Linked DNA regions of Homo sapiens. The protein of the gene in region 3 purifies or fractionates together with the protein of the main gene of each other region. This does not show direct contact. Each region holds a gene or a part of one and is shown on either strand. Other genes may lie near its edges. The genes, in order: TTC3, PCYOX1 and DYNC2LI1.

Evidence for each region.
Region 1: the proteins of DYNC2LI1 (region 3) and TTC3 purify together in Homo sapiens (affinity purification with mass spectrometry; 2 studies listed by BioGRID and IntAct, with this or other methods). This does not show direct contact.
Region 2: the proteins of DYNC2LI1 (region 3) and PCYOX1 purify together in Homo sapiens (affinity purification with mass spectrometry; 2 studies listed by BioGRID and IntAct, with this or other methods). This does not show direct contact.

The regions. Positions count from the first base shown.
Region 1 is NC_000021.9:37,146,143-37,153,253, forward strand, and holds part of TTC3 (E3 ubiquitin-protein ligase TTC3), read left to right. Parts: intron 1-1,338; coding exon 1,339-1,461; intron 1,462-2,403; coding exon 2,404-2,505; intron 2,506-3,935; coding exon 3,936-4,028; intron 4,029-4,677; coding exon 4,678-4,742; intron 4,743-5,750; coding exon 5,751-5,887; intron 5,888-6,808; coding exon 6,809-7,111. UniProt on the Homo sapiens protein: E3 ubiquitin-protein ligase which catalyzes the formation of 'Lys-48'-polyubiquitin chains. Mediates the ubiquitination and subsequent degradation of phosphorylated Akt (AKT1, AKT2 and AKT3) in the nucleus.
Region 2 is NC_000002.12:70,268,106-70,275,216, reverse strand, and holds part of PCYOX1 (prenylcysteine oxidase 1 precursor), read right to left. Parts: intron 259-7,111; coding exon 47-258; intron 1-46. UniProt on the Homo sapiens protein: Prenylcysteine oxidase that cleaves the thioether bond of prenyl-L-cysteines, such as farnesylcysteine and geranylgeranylcysteine. Only active against free prenylcysteines and not prenylcysteine residues within prenylated proteins or peptides.
Region 3 is NC_000002.12:43,790,972-43,798,082, forward strand, and holds part of DYNC2LI1 (cytoplasmic dynein 2 light intermediate chain 1), read left to right. Parts: intron 1-3,485; coding exon 3,486-3,672; coding exon of another isoform or gene 3,673-3,771; exon of another isoform or gene 3,772-4,208; intron 4,209-4,915; coding exon of another isoform or gene 4,916-4,918; coding exon 4,919-4,987; intron 4,988-5,746; coding exon 5,747-5,824; intron 5,825-7,111. UniProt on the Homo sapiens protein: Acts as one of several non-catalytic accessory components of the cytoplasmic dynein 2 complex (dynein-2 complex), a motor protein complex that drives the movement of cargos along microtubules within cilia and flagella in concert with the intraflagellar transport (IFT) system, facilitating the assembly of these organelles.

The DNA.
Region 1 (7,111 bases), on a different chromosome or scaffold from region 3:
TACGTAAGTATTGGAACCTGGGAGGTTGAGGCTGCAGTGAGCCTTGATTGTGCCACTGCAGTGCAGCCTGGGCAACAGAGTGAGAGTCTGCCTCAAAAACAAATGGCCAGTCTTGGTGGCTTACGCCTGTAATCCTACCACTTTGGGAGGCCAAGGCAGGAGGATTGCTTGAGCTCAGGAGTTCAAGACCAGCCTGGGCAACATGGCGAAACCCATCAATACAAAAATTAGCCAAACATAGTGGCACATGCCTGTAGTCCCAGCTACTCAGGAGGCTGAGGTGGAAGGGTCAGTTGAGCCCAGGAGGCAGAGGTTGCAGTGAGCTGAGATCGTGCCACTGCACTCCAGCCTGAGTGACAGAGTGAGACGCTGTCTCAAAAAAAAAAAAGAGTACTGATAACATGCTGCAGCATGGATGGACCTTGGAAACATTATGCTAAGTAAAAGAAGCCAAACACAAAGGGCTTGTGTGAGTCCATTCCTATGAAATCTCCAGAATAAGCAAGTCTGTATATAGTGACAGAAAGTAGACCAGTGATTGCTGGGCCTGGAAGGTTAGGGGAAAATGAGGAGGGACTGCTAATGCGTATGGAGTTTCTTTTTGAAAATGTTCTAAATTTAGACCGTGGTGATGTCAGCACATCCTGTGAATATGCTAAGAACACCGAACCGTACACTTCATTTGAGTTGTATAGTGTGTAAATTATGTCTCAACAAAGCTATTATAAAAAATACAACACAGGGATTCTTGGATTTACCTCTCTTCATACAAGATTGGGATAGAGGCATAGGAGCTATTGATAACAAAAAGCCAGCACTGGAAGCATGGCATGAGTCTCTTGGGGGCTTCATTAGCAGTGGAATAATTCTCCAGGGAGTCCACAAACAACAGTGGCAGAGCTGCAAGGAGGAAGATAATGGGAGTGTTAGGATTCTGGATGAGGTGATGTTGGGCAAGAGGAGCCTGGTAAAGTCCTCAGGATTACCCTAAGGGTTATTCTGCCTTACTTGACTTCCTCTTAATGCTTATGGAAGATTTCTGAGAGCTGTAAATTATAAAATGCGATTTGATGATTGTAACAGGACAAAATTTTGATTCTTTCGAAATTCTGAAAAAAAATTTTGTCCAGTCCTCTTTTTAAATCTCTCTTATGTCTCTTATCAGCCTTCCTTTTAAAAGGAAAAACTTTAAAAGTTGTATGTAGTTTGTTGTTGGTGAAAAAATTTAGTCATTCTTATGCTGAAAATATTTTGATGGCAAGAGGTTATTGAAATCACAAGCATTTTTATTGACAGATTAGTATTGTAATGGTATCATTTTTGTTTATTTTGTTTTAGATGCTGTTAGAGAAATTTGTTGAAGAATGCAAGTTCCCTCCAGTGCCAGATGCCATTTGTTGCTATCAGAAGTGCCATGGATATTCTAAGATCCAGATATACATAACTGATCCAGACTTTAAGGTAAATAATGAGTGTACAGTGGGACATTAACTTGCAAAATCATTTCTTAAAATGGGCTCAAAACAATCTGTAATTGGAGGCACCCAAGTTCTCTGGCTAGTTAGCAGTCGTCCACCCCTTTCCCAGGATTTTTTTTTTTTTTTTGAGATAAGTCTCACTCTGTCACCCAGGCTGGAGTGCAGTGGCACGATCTTGGCTCACTGCAACCTCCGCCTCCTGGGTTCAAGCAATTCTCCTGCCTCAGCCTCCCAAGTAGCTGGGATTACAGGCGTGTCCCAGCACGCCCAGCTAATTTTTGCATTTTTAGTAGAGACAGGGTTTCACCATATTGGCCAGGATGGTCTCGATCTCTTGACTTCGTGATCCACCCCCTCAGCCTCCCAAAGTGTGGGATTACAGGTATGAACCACCACGCCCAGCCTTCCTGGACTTTTTTAGGTCTACATCGTCTCACATGGGAACCAGAGCCACTGATGTATAAACGCTCTGGGCTGGGGTAGTGACCTGAGAAGGCAGGCTGGCTCATTCTTTTTCCTCTTCAAGCTACCTTAGGAGGATAGGAAACAAAGTGAGATTGTTACCTCTGATTTGTTGCAATTCTGATCTCTCATAAAATTTGAGTCCCAAATCTAAAGGTCATTGTGATCATTGAATTAGCTGTTAGAGACCTAAATTTGAGATAAGTCTGGCACTTAATTGAGTTATACTGGTTTATTCAAGAAGCTAGTAGCTGCCCTTGTCCTGCTGTTCCAATGTCCCTGGTTAGTAAATCAGATGAAATAATGTTTATAAAATATTTGATATATTTTGAAGAATGATGCAACTTTATGCTGTGGAAATAAATATGTTAGTCAAGCTCTCTCTGTCTTTATGTATGTTGTAGTGAGTGAGTGTGCAGAGACATCTTTAAAACGTTAATTAAAAAATTTTTTGTAACCCTAGGGTTTTATACGCATCAGCTGTTGCCAGTACTGTAAAATAGAATTTCACATGAATTGCTGGAAGAAGTTAAAAACTACAACCTTTAATGATAAAATTGACAAGGTAAAGCATAACAGGATTGTCTGAATTTTTCAGTATACTTATTGTATGTCAATTTTTCCCCCAAGAATTCCTTCCTGAACATTCTGCACATAATTAGAAAATTTTAAATTATAACTTTAATAATAAAGTGGAAAATCAAATTTGTTTTTATTTGGACAATCATAAAGGCATTAACCATAGAGGCTTTGTTTTTTTAAAGAGACGGATCTCACTGTGTTGCCCAGGCTAGAGTGCAGTGGTGCAGTCGTAGCTCACTGCAGCCTCAGACTCCTTGACCCAAGTGATCCTACTTCAGCCTCCCAAAGTGCTGGGATTATAGGCATGAGCCACTGCACCAGGCCCCACTTGAAAGTTTTGATGTGGAATTAGGGATTTCAAAACCAAAATTTGATGAGGTAATTTGTACTAAGAAGTCAACTCAAAACAATTTTTTTAATGTTGGGAAGAAAGATCAACTTCAATTTTAAACTGCCATTTCTCTCCAGGGATTTTCTTATTACCAAGATAATGATGTTAATTACCATTAAGTAGACATACTTTGAGGGAAGTCATAGTATTACAATCTTATTTGTATTCATAGAATTTGTTTCTGATCTATAGAAACTATGGACCTTTTCCTACACTTCTTAGGCTTATGCAGACCACTGTTCTTATTGGGGAAAGAATGAGGCAGTTGTACTAGGCATCTGTTAACAATAGCAATTATTAAAGTATGGTAGAAATAAATTCTCACATTTTGTACATTTTCACATAATTAATTAACAATATAATGATATGAGTAAATAACTGTCACCTTTGAGTCACTTCTGCTATGTCTTTGTCTTACCTAAATTGAGTTTCTCTAGTGATATACCCTCTTTTAGTGGTCTTAACTATTCCCATCATTTTAAATACACTCTGTAAATTAGTCAGCTTTCCCTAGGATATGCTGAAGTGATGCAACCCAAATATCTTGTGGCATACATCAGAGAAGTTTGTTTTTTGCTTACATGACTTGTCCTGCAGTTCTGCAGTTGTTGGCTGGGACTGGGCTGTAGCAGCTTTATTTTGTGTGGCTCTATTCCTTGTTTCTCAATCTAAGTTGAAGAATGACCCTTTTCTGGAACATCTTCCTGTGTCAGAGGAAAAAGAACAATGTCCAGTCTATGAAGTGTTTGTTAAACCTTTTGTCTAGACATGTGTATGTCATGTCTGGTCACTTTGCATTGATGAAAACAAGTCACATGGTCAGACCCACACCTGAAAGTATATTTTTCCTACACGGAAGCCTTAAAATTCGCATGGCAGTGAGTAAGGATTTTCACCACTTGCCTGAAGATGGTTTTAGTCCGTATTTTGACTGTTCCTAGTGGTAAAAATAGTATACGTGTATAGATTTATCCCCCCTAGACATAACATTTTTCTTGTTTTTTTTTTTTTTAATCAAATAGGATTTTCTACAAGGAATATGTCTTACCCCTGACTGTGAAGGTGTCATTTCTAAGATTATCATCTTCAGCAGTGGTGGTGAAGTTAAATGTGAAGTAAGTAATAAAGGGGAAACCTTGTTAGATAGATAACCAAAATGTTTACACCTTTTGAAACATGATTTGAATTTGTAGATATCATGTAATTTGGATCTTTTCCAGGAAAGAAACAATTACTTCATTTAAGAAAATATAGGAAATACTGGGATGTGAGAATGCTTCATTGTAATGAAAGCATTCTTATATTCTTTTATTTCTTAATAGGAAAAGGAGGCTTTTTATATCTTAGTTTTACTATTTTTACTGTTTTTGATAACTTCATTTTCTTAATCCCGGTAAACTTTTGGGCAGTAGTGGGTGTGCAGGTTTTTAGGGAGGGGGAAGAGCGTCTTGAGGGATTACCTTTAACTTCATGACATGGGAATGGCAAGAGTGGGTAGTTGTAATAATATTTACACTTTATTAGATCGTCTGCTTACTCTTAATTTTTTAAAAACTTTTTCCTCAAGTGTGTCTACCCTCTTGTTCCTCTTCAGTAAATTATTTTGCTAAAGCTTTCTGGGCTTTTGTCTGGGTCAGAACATCATCACTGTTCTCTATCAAACTGAACATTATGTGTGCTTCTGAAATACTTGTTACTTGTGGTTTTGTGTTTTATGTCATGGGAGTATGAGACAAATTTTGGATGTCTTTGTTTTATTTAAAGTTTGAACACAAGGTCATAAAAGAAAAGGTTCCTCCAAGACCTATTCTGAAACAGAAATGTTCTAGGTAAGATTTTTAACAATCAATCAGTGGTTTGATGATGTCTCTTAGAATATAATTCTATTAAATGCAGATTTCTAAATTATGCCTTTTTAAAAATTGGCTGTGTATACATATATTCAAATAAGTGTTTTTTAAAATGATTTTTATGGAAAATTAAAACTTAAAGAGAACTAGCCTAGAATGATTAAATACTAAAAACTTGATTCAGAATTATTTATCTAGTGGTTGAATTTACAATTAAAATTATAACATTTGATGCTGTGAAATTACATGTTTGATTAATAGATTTGGCATTTATATAAAAACTATACAGTTTGCTCTCAGTTGTTGAAACTTTAATTCCAAAAGCATATTTTTCTTTTTATCTCTCTTCAGTAAACATTTTGAACCTATGACTATTTTTTACCCTGAAATACTCAATGTACTGTCTAAATTATTACTTCTCTATAGCTTTTTGTTTAGATCAAATAATTCAGATTCTTTTTTCTTTTCTTTTTGGTCCTGCTTCTTGTTTTTCTTTCTAAGAAGTGATTTTTTTTTATCATTTGTGACCAAGAAAAAGCAAAAGAAAAGATGAACAGAATTATTTGTTGGAGAGAATTCATTGTAACCAGATCAACCAAATTATAGTGTTGTGGGTTATTATTGAGATGTGAAAATTATATTTTACTATGGGACCTTTCTTAGAAATGAGAGTTTACATGAATTATTTTGCAGAGTAATTTGTACTATTTCTGTTTACCCTATGAAGTAACTTAGATACATGAAAGTGACATCTATACAATCTGTAGACTGCATCCTTAGACATCACCTAATCATTGAGGTTTTTGTTTTCATGAAACAAGTACCCTTATTTTGACAATACTGACAGTTTCTTACATTGAATGGAAGATGTAGGCCGGGCTCTGATTAAAAAAGGAAAACTTCTAATATATTGCTTGGAAGATGGTTTCTACGATAGTCAAAGGAAAACAGTTCATTGAGTTGTCACTAATTGTAAATGTTTATCAGCCTAGAGAAACTAAGACTGAAAGAAGACAAAAAATTGAAGAGAAAGATCCAAAAAAAAGAAGCAAAAAAGTTAGCACAAGAAAGAATGGAGGAGGACTTAAGAGAAAGTAATCCACCCAAAAATGAAGAGCAGAAAGGTATGCAGAAGCCAAAGGCATGATAAGAATAATATACTCTCATTTAAATGTATAAATGTAAGCATCTTTTGGGCCTTATATTCATCATTATTGAATTGAAATAAAGATTTCACTTAGTAATTTAATACTATCACTGTCTTCTGTTACTCGAAGACAGAATTGGGTTGGTGTAAAGAACACTGAAAAACCTTTCAGAGATTGTATTCCCACTGAAAAACCTTTCAGAGATTGTATTTTAACTTTCTGTGCTTAATGACTAAACATATTTATTGTATATAAAGTTAAGGTAGTTGATGAGGCTGGGTTAGGATTGTTGAAGGAAGTGGCCGTATTTTAGGGGAACTAAGTTGTTTTTTTTTTTTGTTTTTTTTTTTTGAGACGGAGTCTCACTCTGTTGCCCAGGCTGGAGTGCAGTGGCGCGATCTCGGCTCACTGCAAGCTCCGCCTCCCGGGTTCACGCCATTCTCCTGCCTCAGCCTCCCCAGTAGCTGGAACTACAGGTGCCCGCCACCATGCCCAGCTAATTTTTTGTATTTTTAGTAGAGATGGGGTTTCACCGTGTTAGCCAGGATGGTCTCGATCTCCTGATCCACCCTCCTCGGCCTCCCAAAGTGCTGGGATTACAGGCATGAGCCACCACGCCTGGCCTAGAGGAACTAAGTTTCAAATGCTACTACATGAATGGTTCAGAATGAAGGGTGTAAAATGCTTACTTTTGGTATGTTTATTTTAGCGTACACTTTCATGTCTTTTCAAAAGTATTGTTAAGTGTTTATATTTCTAATTAAAGTTTCTTGAGTTTAGTAAAACAGTATAATCAATCTGAATCATATTTTATATTATGTAATTTTGTTATTTCTAAGTTTATGTAATTGTGAATTAGTCCTATTTATCACTTTAACCATTGTTATTTATCCTTAGAAACTGTAGACAATGTTCAGCGTTGTCAGTTCCTTGATGACAGAATTCTACAGTGTATAAAGCAGTATGCTGACAAGATTAAATCCGGCATACAGAATACAGCCATGCTTCTCAAAGAATTGCTTTCTTGGAAAGTTTTGAGCACAGAAGACTATACAACCTGTTTTTCTAGCAGAAATTTTCTAAATGAAGCAGTGGACTATGTTATTCGCCACTTGATTCAAGAAAATAACAGAGTAAAGACAAGAATATTTCTGCATGTTTTGAGTGAGCTTAAAGAAGTGGAGCCCAAATTAGCCGCCT
Region 2 (7,111 bases), about 26 Mb from region 3:
CCCCTCTGTGAACTAATGTCCACCACTGTTTCAAGCCCTGGCTTACCCACAAAGGCATTGATGTCCGTGCTTTGGCCATAATTGACCCTCATAACAGGAGCAATCATTTCATTGAGGAACTTCTCAGAAAAGCCGGCCTTTTGCAAGGTTTCAAGAAGTGTTCGATTAAGCATTCCAAGGAAGTCATCTCCTCCTAGAGCATGAAGTAATTTTTCGACACTACTGAAGGCATAGTCATGAGACTGGTAGCGGTAGATCCTTTGGAAAAGAAGAGAAATCCATTAAATACCAAACAAGATGTGGGGAAGGGGATGTATAAAGAAGGGAAGTGGCGTCATAAGAATCAAACTGACATCTAGGTGCAGTGGCTCACGCCTATAATCCCCACACTTTGGGAGGCAGAGGTGGGCAGGTCACCTGAGGTCAGGAGTTCAAGACCAGCCTGGCCAACATGGCAAAACCCCAGCTTTACTAAAAATACAAAAATTAACCAGGCATAGTGGTGTATGCCTGTGGTCCCAGCTACTTGGGAGGCTGAGGCAGGAGGACTGCTTGAGCCCCGGAATTCAAGGCCGCAGTGAACTGTGATAATGCCGCTGCACTCCAGCCTGGGCCAGACAGTGACAGTGTCTCTTAAAAAAAAAAAAAGAAAAAAAAAAAGAAAAGAAACTAAGGAAGAAAGAAAGAAGAAGAAAAAGGAAAAATAAAAAGTAGAAGTAAGGCCAGGCGCGGTGGTTTCATGCCTGTAATCCTAGCTCTTTGGAAGGCCAAGGCAGGCAGATCACTAGGTCAGGAGTTTGAGACCAGCCTGACCAACATGGTGAAACCCCGTCTCTACTAAAAATACAAAAATTAGCTGGGCCTGGTGGCGCACGCCTGTAATCCCAGCTATTCAGGAGGCTGAGGCAGGAGAATCGCTTCAACCCAGAAAGCGGAGGTTGCAGTGAGCCGAGATCACACCGCTGCACTCCAGCCTGGGCAACAGAGCGAGACTCCATCTCAAAAAAAAAAAAAAAAAAAAGTAGAAGTAAAATACTTTGTCTAAAGGCCACATGGCAAGTATAAGGCTCAATCACAACTTGCCCACTCTGCTGTCAATCACCCACACATGCACAGTCTCCACTGGAGCACACCTGACCCATTCACTGGTCTCTAAATTTGCCCTACATGCTGTATCCCCACCAGTGCACAAGCTCTTCCCTCCAACCTGAATACACTTCCCATTCCTAACCATGGAACATCTATTCTTCCTTAACAGAACTTGAATCCCACCTTCTCTGAAAAGTCTTGCTCAACTTCCCAGTCCACAGTTATATCATCTCCAGAAGCCTCATAAAACTTAGCACCAATGCCACTCATTCAACAATTAGATGCTTTCTATTATTTTTTAGAAAACATCACTTGACCAAAAAGAAAAATATCACCCAACACTTCTCTGCATTTTATGGATTTAAAACAACATTCACATAAATTAGTGCATTCAGTAATTCAAACACAATTTTTCATGTTGCAAATAGTACAAAGATGGAAAACAGGCTTAAGTTTGGGATAAGTAATACGGGGTTTATCTCTTATTCCCTTAAGGGGCTTATAGTTAGGGATAAGTAATAAGGCACATGCAGAGATAAGTATATGAAAATAAGAAATTAAGAGCCAAGGAAAGATCCCTATCACTGATCATGGAAGGGAAACTTTCACATCAAGTTTTTCTCTCAAAATGTACTATATTTTTTTACAGAACAAGGGACAGTATTATAACCATTTCAGTATTACCTACTAAAAGCATAGTAGTAGTATAAGTGTACAAAATGTTAAACACATTTTTATTGGAAAAACTGATTCGATATCTATGCCAAAACTGAGAAACTAAATACCTTCTAACCATAGCATTTGGGTCCCAGTCTTTAGGAGACTGGAAAAAGTAGGATGGAAACACTGAATTCTTCAGAAAAATAATAGCCTGGATATCTCATATCCAAAGAAGAGTGATCTTTGGCTAATGGTCAACATGAGAAAATAACAGTCAATTAAATAAGCTACTAATGATGCTATAAAAAACATATTCCCCAACTGCTCCTGCCAGAGCTGCAACCTCACTCAAGCAAGTCTCCCTGGGAGGGGGCGGGGTGGCAGCGGTGAGATGAAACTATATACACAATATAAACAGAGAGCACTCTAATTGTTTCATGATACAACTAATCGTATTAGAATAAATACACTGCTGGGTATGGTGGCTCATGCCTGTAATCCTAGCACTTTGGGAGGCAAAGTGGGGCAGCATCACTTGAGGTCAGTAGTTTGAGACCGCCTGGCCAACATGGTGAAACCCCATCTCTACTAAAAATACAAAAATTATCCAGGTGTGGTGGTGCATGCCTGTAATCCCAGCTACTCAGGTGGCTGAGGCATGAGAATTGCTTGACCCAGGAGACAGAGGTTGCAGTAAGTCAAGATCACACCACTGCACTACACCCTGGATGACAGAGCAAGACTCCATCTCAAAAAAATAATAATAATAAATGAAAAAACAGAATAAATACTACTAAAAAACAGCACCCAGGTGAGGCAGCATGCACCTGTAGTCACAGCTACTCAAGAGGCTGAGGTGGGAGGATCACTTAAGCCCAGGGGCACAAGGCTGTAGTACATTATGGTTGCACCTGTGAACAGCCAGCCAATATACTCCAGCCTGGGTGACAGAGTAAGACAGGAGGATACCTTGAGGCCAGGAGTTCAAGACTAGCCTGGGCAACATAGCAAGACTCTGTCTGTACACAAAATGTAAAAATTAGCCAGGCGCAGTGGTTCATGCCTGTAATCCCAGCACTTTGGGAGGCTGAGGCGGGCAGATCGCTTGAGGTCAGGAGTTTGAGACCAGCCTGGCCAACATAGCGAAACCCCACCTCTACTAAAAATACAAAAATTAACTGGGCATGGTGGCGCATGCCTGTAATACCAGCTACTTGGGAGGTGGAGGCAGGAGAATCGCTTGAACCTGGGAGGTAGAGGTTGCAGTGAGCCGAGATCGTGCCACTGCACTCTAGCCTTGGTGACAGAGTGAAACTCCCTCTCAAAAAAAAAAAAAAAAAAATTAAAAATTAGCCAGGCTCCTATATAATAGATTGATCATGCACCATATCCACAGGAGGTTGGAAAAACCATGCCATTTTCTGGAATTTAAGGGTGTTGCATTATTTCATCAATCATTTGTTGACAAAAAAGAAAAACTAAAAAATAAATTTAAAATGTGAACCTTCAGGTATTGAGTAACACCTTTATCTTGGTATAGAACTGATACTTTTTTTTTATTTTGAAATATCTGATAATAATTTGGAATGAAGTAAGGTTCTGTTAAAGAAAATATATTTGAAGACCCTTTAAAGCAGTGAATCTGAAACAATTTTCACACCCTTAAGTGGTTGATACGTACCTATTTTTAGGTATTTTGAGGTATTTACCATAAACTAAATTTAGAAATTTTTTAGATTCACTTGAAGTAAACATTACAAACATTGGATACGGTGGGGTTTTCTTTAGATTTTACTTGAGAGAAGGTGAGTACAAAGCAATTTGCAGTTGTTGTAATGACAAGATTACTGCGCAAGTGTGAATCCAAACAGTATAGCTTTTAAATTTTAAAGCATTTGGTAAATTATCGCTGAGTTTTTTTCTGTTGCCAATAGCAAACTGCTTTTCCATTAATGGAGAATTCACGCCTTTCAAGCATTTTAAATATGACAATATTTATAAATGTATGGTTTGGAGGAATCGTTTAAATTCTCTTTCCTAATTTTCTTTCTTTTGAAGATAGATTCTTTCAACAAGTAATTTGTAGTAATGACTGTGTTGACTTCAATTTTGGAGCGCAGTAGCTATGTTAAAGATGAACTATTTGGTCTCATTGAAGCCAACACAGAACTTGCTGCTGTGTTTTTTCTTCAGTGATAAATAAAATACTTACAGAAAAAAAAAAAAAAAAAAATTAGCCAGGCATGGTGAGGCATGCCTGTAGTCCCAGCTATTCAGGAAGCTGAGGCATGAGGATCACTTCAGCCCCGCTGGTTGAGGCTGCAGTGAGCTGTGATCACACCACTGCACTCCATCCAGCTTGGGCAACAGAGTGAGACCTTGTCTTAAAAAAAACAAAAACAAAAACAAAAAAATAATAATTTTTAAAAAAATATAACTGGGGCCAGGCACAGTGGCTCACGCCTGTAATCCCAGCACTTTGGGAGGCCAAGACAGGTGGATCACCTGAGGTCAGGAGTTCGAGACCAGCCTGACCAACATGGAGAAACCCTGTCTCTACTAAAAATACAAAATTAGCCGGGCGTAGTGGTGCAGTGGCACAGTGAGCCAAGGTGAGCCGAGGAGAGCCAAGATCGTGCCACTGCACTCCAGCCTGGGCAACAGAGACAGACTCCATCTCAAAAGAAAAAAAAAAGGAGAAAATGGTCTGAAAAGAAGACTAGAAATACATGGGGTTAGGAGGGTTGAATTCTAAATAAGACTGTCCAAAAACAAGAGTGGTCAGGAAAAGCCTCACTGAGAAGATGATATAGACCAAAGACCCGAAGGAGATGAGGATGCAAACCAGGCAAACACCTGGGGGAAAATATTTCCGGTAGAGGTAAAAGCAATGCAAAGGTCACATGACAGAAGCTTGCCTGGCACATTCAAGAAACAATGAAGCCAGAGCAGCTGAAGCAGAGTGATATGGGAGAACCGGGAGTGGTACAGCCAGAAATGTTACTGGGGAGAGGAAACTTCCAGAATGGCAGAGGAAGGACCTCTGGAAATCTGCTCCTCCATAAAAGCTATGAGAATACTGCCAAAAATGATCAACATTGACTCTTTCAGAGCTCTGCAGATAAACCAAAGCCTTTCCAAGTCCAAGGAGTATTTATTCAAGAAAAATGTCTGGCAGGCATGGTGGCTCACACCTGTAATCCCAGCACTCTGGGAAGCTGAGCCAGGCGGATCACTTGAGGTCAGGAGTTCAAGACCAGCCTGCCCAACATGGTGAAACACCATCTGTACCAAAAATATAAAAAATTAGCCAGGTGTGGTGGCACACGCCTGTAATCCCAGCTATTCAGGAGGCTGAGGCAGGAGAATCGCTTGAACCCAGGAGATGGAGGTTGCAGTGAGCCAAGATCGCACCATTGCACTCCAGCCTGGGCGACAAGAGGGAGACTCCGTCGAAAGAAAGAAAGAAAGAGAAAAAGAGAGAGAGAAAAAAAAATAAAAAATAAAACCAGCACCCTTCCAACTGCAATGTGAAACTAGCAAGCTAGAAGCCACTGGAGAGAACACAACGAGTTTGTAGCTCCCAAAAAGCACTATCCTCAGAGAACTGTCAATATTTGACCTATCTGGCAGCTCCGAAAAAGCTCTATCCTGAAGGCTTGTCTTTATTCGACCTGATTCAAAGTTCACTCTATGCAACAGCCCCATCCTGAGGGCACGTGTCCACGTGTCAAAAAAAAAATCTGTGGCAATTGTTTAACATCACAGATGCCGGAGGCTATGACATCAATAGAGACTACAAGAGGCTGACCAAAAAAACTTTTTAAAAAAGGCCGGGTGCAGTGGCTCACGCCTGTAATCCCAGCACATTGGGAGGCACAGGCTGGAGGATCACTTGAGGTTAGGAGTTCGAGACCAGCCTGGCCATCATGGCGAAAACCCATCTCTACTAAAAACACAAAAAATTAGCCAGGGTTGGTGGTGCATGCCTGTAGTCCCACCTACTCAGGAGGCTGAGGCACAAGAATTGCTTGAACCCGGGAGGCAGAGGTTGCAGTGAGCCGAGATAGCGCCACTGAACTCCAGCCTGGGCAACAGAGCGAGACTCTGTCTCAAAAAAAAAAAAAAAAAAATTAGCTGGGCATGGTAGTGCACATCTGTAGTCCCAGCCACTCAAGGGGCCTGAGGTTGGAGAATTGCTTGAGCCTGGGAGGCAGAGGTTGCTGTGAACATACTACACTCTAGCCTGGGCAACAGAGTAAAACATCATCTGAAAAAAAAAAAAAAACAGACACACAGATCCTTGAAACAAATAAGAAAACCCAGAAATAAACCTTCATGAATATGATCAAATGATCTTGACAGAACTGAAATACATAGTTCAACAATAATGGAGACTTCAATATCCCATTTTCAATAATGGACAGTTACTGAAAATGACAACAGTGTATTAGTTCACCAAGACTGCCATAACACAGTACCAAAGACTGGATGGCTTAAACAAAAAAAGTTTTATTTCTTATAGTTCTGTAGGCCAAAAGTCCAAGATCAAGGTGTGGATGCATTCGGTTTCTTCTGAGGCCTATTTCCTTGGCTTGCAGATGGCCACCTTCTTGCTGTGTCCTCACATGGTCTTTGTGTGTTTCTTCTGTGTCCCAATTTTTTTTTTTTTTTTTCTGAGACAGAGTTTCACGCTTGTTGCCCAGGCTGGAGTGCAATGGCTCACTGCAACCTCTGCCGCCCAGGTTCAAGTGATTCTCTTGCCTCAGCCTTCCTGAGTAGCTGGGATTACAAGCATGCACCACCACGCCCAGCTAATTTTTTGTATTTTTAGTAGAGAAGGGGTTTCACCATGTTGGTCAGGCTGGTCTCGAACTCCCAACCTCAGGTGATCTGCCCGCCTTGGCCTCCTTTCTGTGTCCTAATCTTAAGGACACCCATCAAATTGTTTTAGGGTCTACGCTAAAGACCTCATTTTAACTTAATCACATATTTAAAGGCCCTACATACATATGCAGTCACATTCTGAGTACTGGGTGGCTAGTGTTTCAACCTATGAATTTTGGGGAAAACAAATTTAAAAGTAAGGGATGAGAGCACAGAATCCTGTCATGTCTTCTCAGTCACAAAACAGATTTTGGCTATAAATCTCTATTAATGAAATAGCCACTGAAGGTTTCTGAGTTAGTGGAGTGATGTGATGAGCCTTAGATTTTAAAGAACTACTTTGGCTGCTAACCTGAGAACAAATGGTAGCAATATAACAGTAATGGCAGATGATTTAGGAGGTGTCTTGGTTTTCCACTGCTGCTATAACAAATTACCACAAACTTAGTGGCTTAAAACAACACAAATTTACGGC
Region 3 (7,111 bases):
TGAGAGGCCAGAGCCAGTGGATCACTTGAGGTCTGGAGTTCAAGACCAGCCTGGGCAACATAGTGAGACCCCATCTCTACAAAAAAATTAAAAAATAAAATTAGCCAGGCATCATAGCAAGCCTCTGTAGTACCAGCTACACAGGTGGCTGAGGCAGGAGGATTGCGTGAGCCAGGGAGTTCAAGGCTGCAGTAAGCTATGATCATACCACTGTACTCCAGCCTGAGTGACAGAGTGAGACATTGTCTCTTTAAAAAAGAGAGAGAGAGAGATAGGGTGGGAGGAGCTTCCAGTTACAGTGGCCAGAGGCTGAAAGGGTGAAAATACAGGAGGTGGCTCTTACCTGGGTTGGGAGTCGCCTCCTATTCAACTGACTTGTTTTATTACCTCACTCCCCTTCTTGAAGCCCAAAAGGTTTTGGCCTGCTGGGGTTGTGGAAATTCTAGGTTCTGCAGGAAGCCAGATCATCCCAAGGGTTAATACCTCATTTGTGAGGTCTTGGGCTTCCTTTCCCTGGAGCCCCATGACAGCTGGGACCTGCTTTAGGAGAGAGGAAGGGTCAGGGTTATGATCAACAGAGGGAAAGGGAAAGGGAGCCATAGGCTTGGGTCTAAAGTAGGTTGCTGGGTGGTTAAATAATTCATGGAAAAACATTTCATTCACCATGTCAAAAACACTCAAACTGTTTTTGACTGGAATTAGTTTGACACATAATTTCCTTGTGTTGGATGAAGTCTCACAACTTGAGAAAACAATATTGCCAAATACTGTTAGATACTGTTTATCTTTGAAATAACTGTTTATAGAATTATAAATGCATTGAACATTTCCACACACTTTAGACAATTTGTAATAGAACATTTCCTGTAGTCTGAATCTCTGTTTTAGGAGTTTATGTAAAAAAATTTTTTGGCTATCATTTGCTATGAAATAGGTAAAAAGTAACAAAAGTATTTCTAATATACTGTAAACAAAAATTTTAATCTTAGAAAAAATTTGAGTAATTTATTTTTCTTTTGCTTAGAATAATTTTTCATTTGAAAAAATAATAAATTTTATGTTATATCCATTTCATCACAATGAAAAAATGTTAAATCATAGTTGAAACACAACCATACCAAAACCCTGAAAATGAAATTAGTACAATTAAAAATGTATATACTATTTTTACACTTAAGCAAAACTGCTTATGAGCTTATTAAAATGACATAAATATAATTGCCTAGACAATGTAATAGCACAATAATTTTTAGAAAATTTGATAATTAATGTGTAAAAGACTACTTTCTGAATTTAGACCAACAGAATTGTTACTGTTTTGCTTGAATTATACAAAATAGCCTGTTTACTTGAACTAAACAAAATAATTAAATAACATATTATAATTTTGTGCTATGTCTTCTAGCAGAATGTTTGCTGTGTTGATCAAGGATATATTGGTTATATTGGATATAATCCTAAACCATCAAGGATTATGGTTCTACATACTTATTATAACCATTTTTAAAAATACTCCTAGATTTACAAATGTTTAGTTTTTATTGTCGTAAAATATACATAGCGTAAAATTTTAGTCATTTTTAACTGTGCAGTTCAGTAACATCAAGTATATTCTCATCACCATACATCTCCAGAACTTTTTGATCTTCTCAAACTGAAACTCTTTACCTATTAAACAATAACTCCTTGTTTTTCCTTCCCCAGCTCCTGGCAACTATCATCCCTACTGCCTGTCTCTATGAATTTGACCACTCCAGTACCTCATATAAATGAAATCATTCATTATTTGTCCTTTTGTTATTTATTTCATTTAGCATAACGTCTTCAGGGTTCTTCCGTTTGTAGTATGTGTCAGGATTTCCCTCACTTCTAAGGCTAAATAATGTTCCATTGTGTAAACAAATACCACAGTTCAGTTATCCGTTAATCCATGCAGAACATTTGGGTTGTTTTCATCTTTTGACTATTGTGAGTAATGCTGGTATGAACATTGGTGTACATTATCTGTTTAAATCTCTTCCTTCAGTTCTTTTGGGTTTAGACTCAGAAGTGGAATTGCTGGATCATCTGGTAATTCTATGGTGAATTTTTTGAGGAATCACTATACTATTTTACACAGTGGCTGCACCATTTTACATTCCCATAAGCAATGTACAGGGGTTCTAATTTCTCTGTATCCTCACTAATACTTGTTATCTTCTCATTTAAAAAAATGTTTTAGGCCAGGAGTGGTGGCTTACACCTGTAATCCCAACACTTTGGGAGGCTGAGGTGGGTAGATCACCTGAGGTCAGGAGTTCGAGACCAGCCTGGGCAACATGGTGAAACCTCGTCTCTACTAAAAATACAAAAATTAGCCGGATGTGGTGGTGCATGCCTGTGATCCCAGCTACTTGGGAGGCTGAGGCAGGAGAATGGCTTGAACCCGGGAGGCAGAGGTTGCAGTGAGCTGAGATCATGCCACTGTACTCCAGCCTGGACAATAGAGACTCCTCCTCCAAAAACAACAACAAAAAAATGTTTTGACAATAGCTAGCCTAATGGATAGGAAGTTGGACATCTTTTCATGTGTTAATTGGCCATCTGTATATCTTCTTTGGCGAAATGTCTATTTGAGTCTTTTGCCTTCTTTTTTTTTTTTTTTAATATAGTTGAGTTGGGGTCTCACTATGTTGCCCAGGCTGGTCTTGAACTCCTGGCCTCAAGTGATCCTCCTGCCTCAGCTTCCCAAAGCTCTAGAATTACAGACATGAGCCACCATCCCTGGCCTCTTTGCCCATTTTTGAACAGGAATGTTTGTTTTTGTTGCCGAGTCTAGGTTTATGTTTGATGGGCATGAACAGAATACAAGTGCATGTGGTGATGGTGGTCATGTATCTGGTGGTCAGGAGTGTGCTTTCAGAGAGACAGAATGGTATTGCAGAAAAACGTGTAACTTTGGATCTAAATACCAGTTCTACAATTTACTAATTATATAAATCTGTGCCTCAGACTTCTAATCTATAAAATGGACATTATAACATCTTCTGGAGAGGGTTATTGTGGAGATTAACTAGGTAGTTCCCTAGCAAGGTCCACCCATATATCTATTTTCTTCTCCTTTACCTGATTATTGTGTTACTGTTTTTGCTTCTTTTATTATTTTTGCTTCCCTTTTTTGGAGCACACAGTAAAACTGGATGTAAACGTGGCATTGTCGATGCAAATGCTTGGAGCTTCTCTATTTGAACTAAACTACTTTTAATTTTAGTTCAAACAGAAACTTAGTTCCACTATTGTAACACTTAAATATTACTAGAGGAAAGTATTGGAATAAATAAGGCTATGACTTTGGTTTTTTGTTTTTGGGAGTCTTAGAATAATGCTACGGTTTTTTTTTCCCCTTAAGGTATATTTTAGTTATTCTTAGATAAATTTCAGTACATTAGGATTTCAAAATGGTAATTATTTTGAGTCTTTTTTGAAAAGTGTTTTTATTTCTTTAGGACGTTTTCTCTTGTTCTCGTTCTGGATCTTTCAAAACCTAATGATCTCTGGCCCACCATGGAAAATCTCTTGCAAGCCACAAAAAGCCATGTAGACAAAGTGATAATGAAACTGGGAAAGACAAATGCTAAAGCAGTTTCTGAAATGAGACAGAAGATCTGGAATAATATGCCGAAGGATCATCCTGTGAGTTGCTGTTTGGGATTATTACTGGAATCCTTAGTCCCATTTATAGTTAATGATAACATCACAAACAACTTCTTTAGATTTTTATGCATGACTTGAAATTCATTTGATGTAGATGAACCTGTTCACTGGAAAATTACAGCAATTTATTAAAACCTCAGTAAGAGCAAAACAAGGAAGAAGATTCCTTATATCTTCTTGTTAGACATCTTCTGTGATTGTTATGGCATATTACACCAATCAGAGAAATAGAGTTTTAAAGTAGTGGTTTGATATTGATTTTATAATCTCTGTAAAAATGAAGATAAAAAGCCAGATTGTACAAAAGTCACCTGACAAAGACTAGATGAAGCTACAACTTTAAGCAAGGGGTAGAGTTGTAATAGCCTTCACCATCACTCTGTATTTTACATTCATTTCGTTTCTGTCACTTATTCAGTATCTTTTTATCATCTGACAGCTAATTAAATTATAAAGTTGCTATGATGGTAACACAAGTTCTTCAAATACAATAATAAATATCATCATCTGGAAAACTGAGAGCAGCATTTTATATTATCCAGAGTTTATAAGAAAGTGTAGCAGGGTGCGATGGCTCATGCTTGTAATCCCAGCACTTTGGGTGGCCGAGGCGGGCGGATCACGACGTCAAGAGATCAAGACCATCCTGGCCGACATGGTGAAACCCCGTCTCTACTTAAGATACTAAAATTAGCTGGGTGTGGTGGTACATGCCTGTAGTCCCAGCTACTTGGGAGGCTGAGGCAGGAGAATCGCTTGAACCTGGGAAGTGGAGGTTGCAGTGAGCCGAGATCGCGCCACTACACTCCAGCCTGACTCCAGAGGGAGACTCTGCCTCAAAAGAAAAAAAAAGAGAGGAAGTGTTTTTCATAGGAAATAATGGAACAAAACAAATCTATGCTGGATAAATGCTGTTCCAACAGTCAACATAAAATAGAATAAAAAAAAACCAGGAAGGTAATATGTTATATAAGGAAATAAAAGGGTAGAAAAAGGAAAATAATAAATATCATAGTAATTTAGGGAATTGCCATTTCTAGTTTTACACTTATGAAATATAGCTTAGGAAGTGAAAGTTAAATATTAGAACAAATTCTATGTCAAGCAAATTAAGTAAACATCTATGAAGAGACTGAAAATGGAATGTTTTTGGAAGTAAATAGAAATTGCTAAGCACCTAGCAATAAAGAATTACAACAACTCAAGGAAATATGTTTATTAGCAGGATCATGAATTAATTGACCCATTTCCGGTACCTCTGGTCATAATTGGAAGTAAATATGATGTTTTTCAGGTAAGCTCTTCCGCTTCTAGCTGAGTTTGTTGTACATATATGGCTGTGCTTTTTATGAGGGAGGTACAAAAATAATATCAAAATAAGAAAAATAATTATTGAAGGAATCGGTTAAGTCATGCATCTTAAAGATTTTGGAAAAGACATAGTTGGGACAGAAAAAAATAGGTAAAGAAAATAAATGCAGTGATTAGAATGGGGATAAGGCAGATTTAGAAAATGAATCTTGCCGGGCACAGTGGCTTATGCCAGTAGTCCCAGCACTTTGGGAGGCTGAAGGGGGAGGATCAATTGAGCCCAGGAATTTGAGGTTACAGTGAGCTGTAATCACACCACTATACTCCAGCCTGGGTTACACAGTGAGACACTTGTCTCAAAAAAAAAAAAAAAAGTCTTCAACCCAGTCACTGGGGAATATGACTTACTTCCCAACTTTTAAATGGAAGAAAGTAGAAAATTAGTTCCTTCTTATCTTTGCTTGTCAGAGAATCGTTAGAATTCCACACTATGAAATGTGTGCTTATATCTAAATTCTATTGAGCTAAGTATTTAAACAAAGAAAGATCTGTTAGCTGTAGTTCTAAGAAGGCTGCAGCTATTGTTCAACTCTCTATGAAATAAATATCAAGGTAATGGAATCCTATTCCTGAAAGTGAGTTTAAAAAAATAAGAAATAATCTATTCTACATTTAATAATTTGAATCTTCCTGCTATAGATATTTGGTTATCTTGACTTTTTAAAATAACATATTTCTACAGGATTTTGAGTCTGAGAAGAGAAAGGTAATATGCAAGACACTTCGATTTGTTGCACATTATTATGGAGCATCATTAATGGTTTGTACATTTCTTGTCCTTTGGGCTTGAATGGACAGTACCAAATTTGGGGAAATCAGCAACTTGATGCACAGCTACGAGGAATAAATGCTTTTGCTAATGCACATGGTCCCGTTGCTTTCCCACTGCTGAAGACCTCTCCTTACAGAGTGTTTGATAATGCATCTGTTGAACATGCACTGCTAGATGGTCTCCCCCTTCTTTGGAACAAAAGTTCTAAATTGCTTATATCCATAAATCCCAACCAAGTTTAAAGAGATAAGTTGATGATCTATTTATTCATTTTTGGTATCCCCTTAAGAATTAGAATCTATATTCCCCTAAAAGAAAAACAAAAATCAACTCTATCAGTGTGTGTATTGGGGATGGGGGCTCTTTAAAAAAGTGCTGTTTGTTGTAAAAGTTAAAAACATGAAATCTGAAGTCATGCTCCCTGGGTTCGAATCTCAGAGTGACCATTTATTAGACGTGTGATCTTCGGCAAGTCACTTAATTTCACTTAAGCCTCATTGTCCTCCAGGGTAAAATGGAGAAAAACAGTACCTTCTTCATAGGGTTGTTGTGAGGATTCAAAGAGGGAGTACATGTGAAATGCTTAGCACAGGGCCTAGAACAGAATATTACTCAATAAATGTTGGTTATTATATCACTGTTATCATTATCTCCCATAGCAGGACTAAACTTTACTAAATGTCCTTTAATGCAATAAAATATAACAACTTTTTTTTTTTTTTTTTTTTTTTTGAGACAGTCTCACTCCGTCACCCAGGCTGGAGTATAATAGCATGGTCTCGGCTCACTGCAACCTCTATCTCCTGGGTTCAAGTGATTCTCCTGCCTCAGCCTCCTGAGTAGCTGGGACTACAGGCACGTGCCACCACACCTGGCTAATTTTTGTATTTTTAATAGAGATGGGGTTTCACTATGTTGGCCAGGCTGGTCTTGAACTCCTGACCTCATGATCGACCCTCCTCGGCCTCCCAAACTGCTGGGATTACAAGCGTGAGCCACCATGCCTGGCCAAAACATTTTTATTTAAAAAATTTCCAGCTGGGTGCAGTGGCTCACACCTGTAGTCCTAACACTTTGGGAGGCTAAGGCGAGAGGATCATTTGAGCTCAGGAGTTTCAGACCAGCCTGGGCAACATGGTGAGAACCTGTCTCTACAAAAAATTTTAAAAATTAGCTGGCCATGGTGGCACACACCAGTTGTCTCAGCTACTTGGGAGGCTGAGGTGGGAGGATCACATGAGCTCAGGAGGTCAAGGCTGCAGTGAACCAAAATCA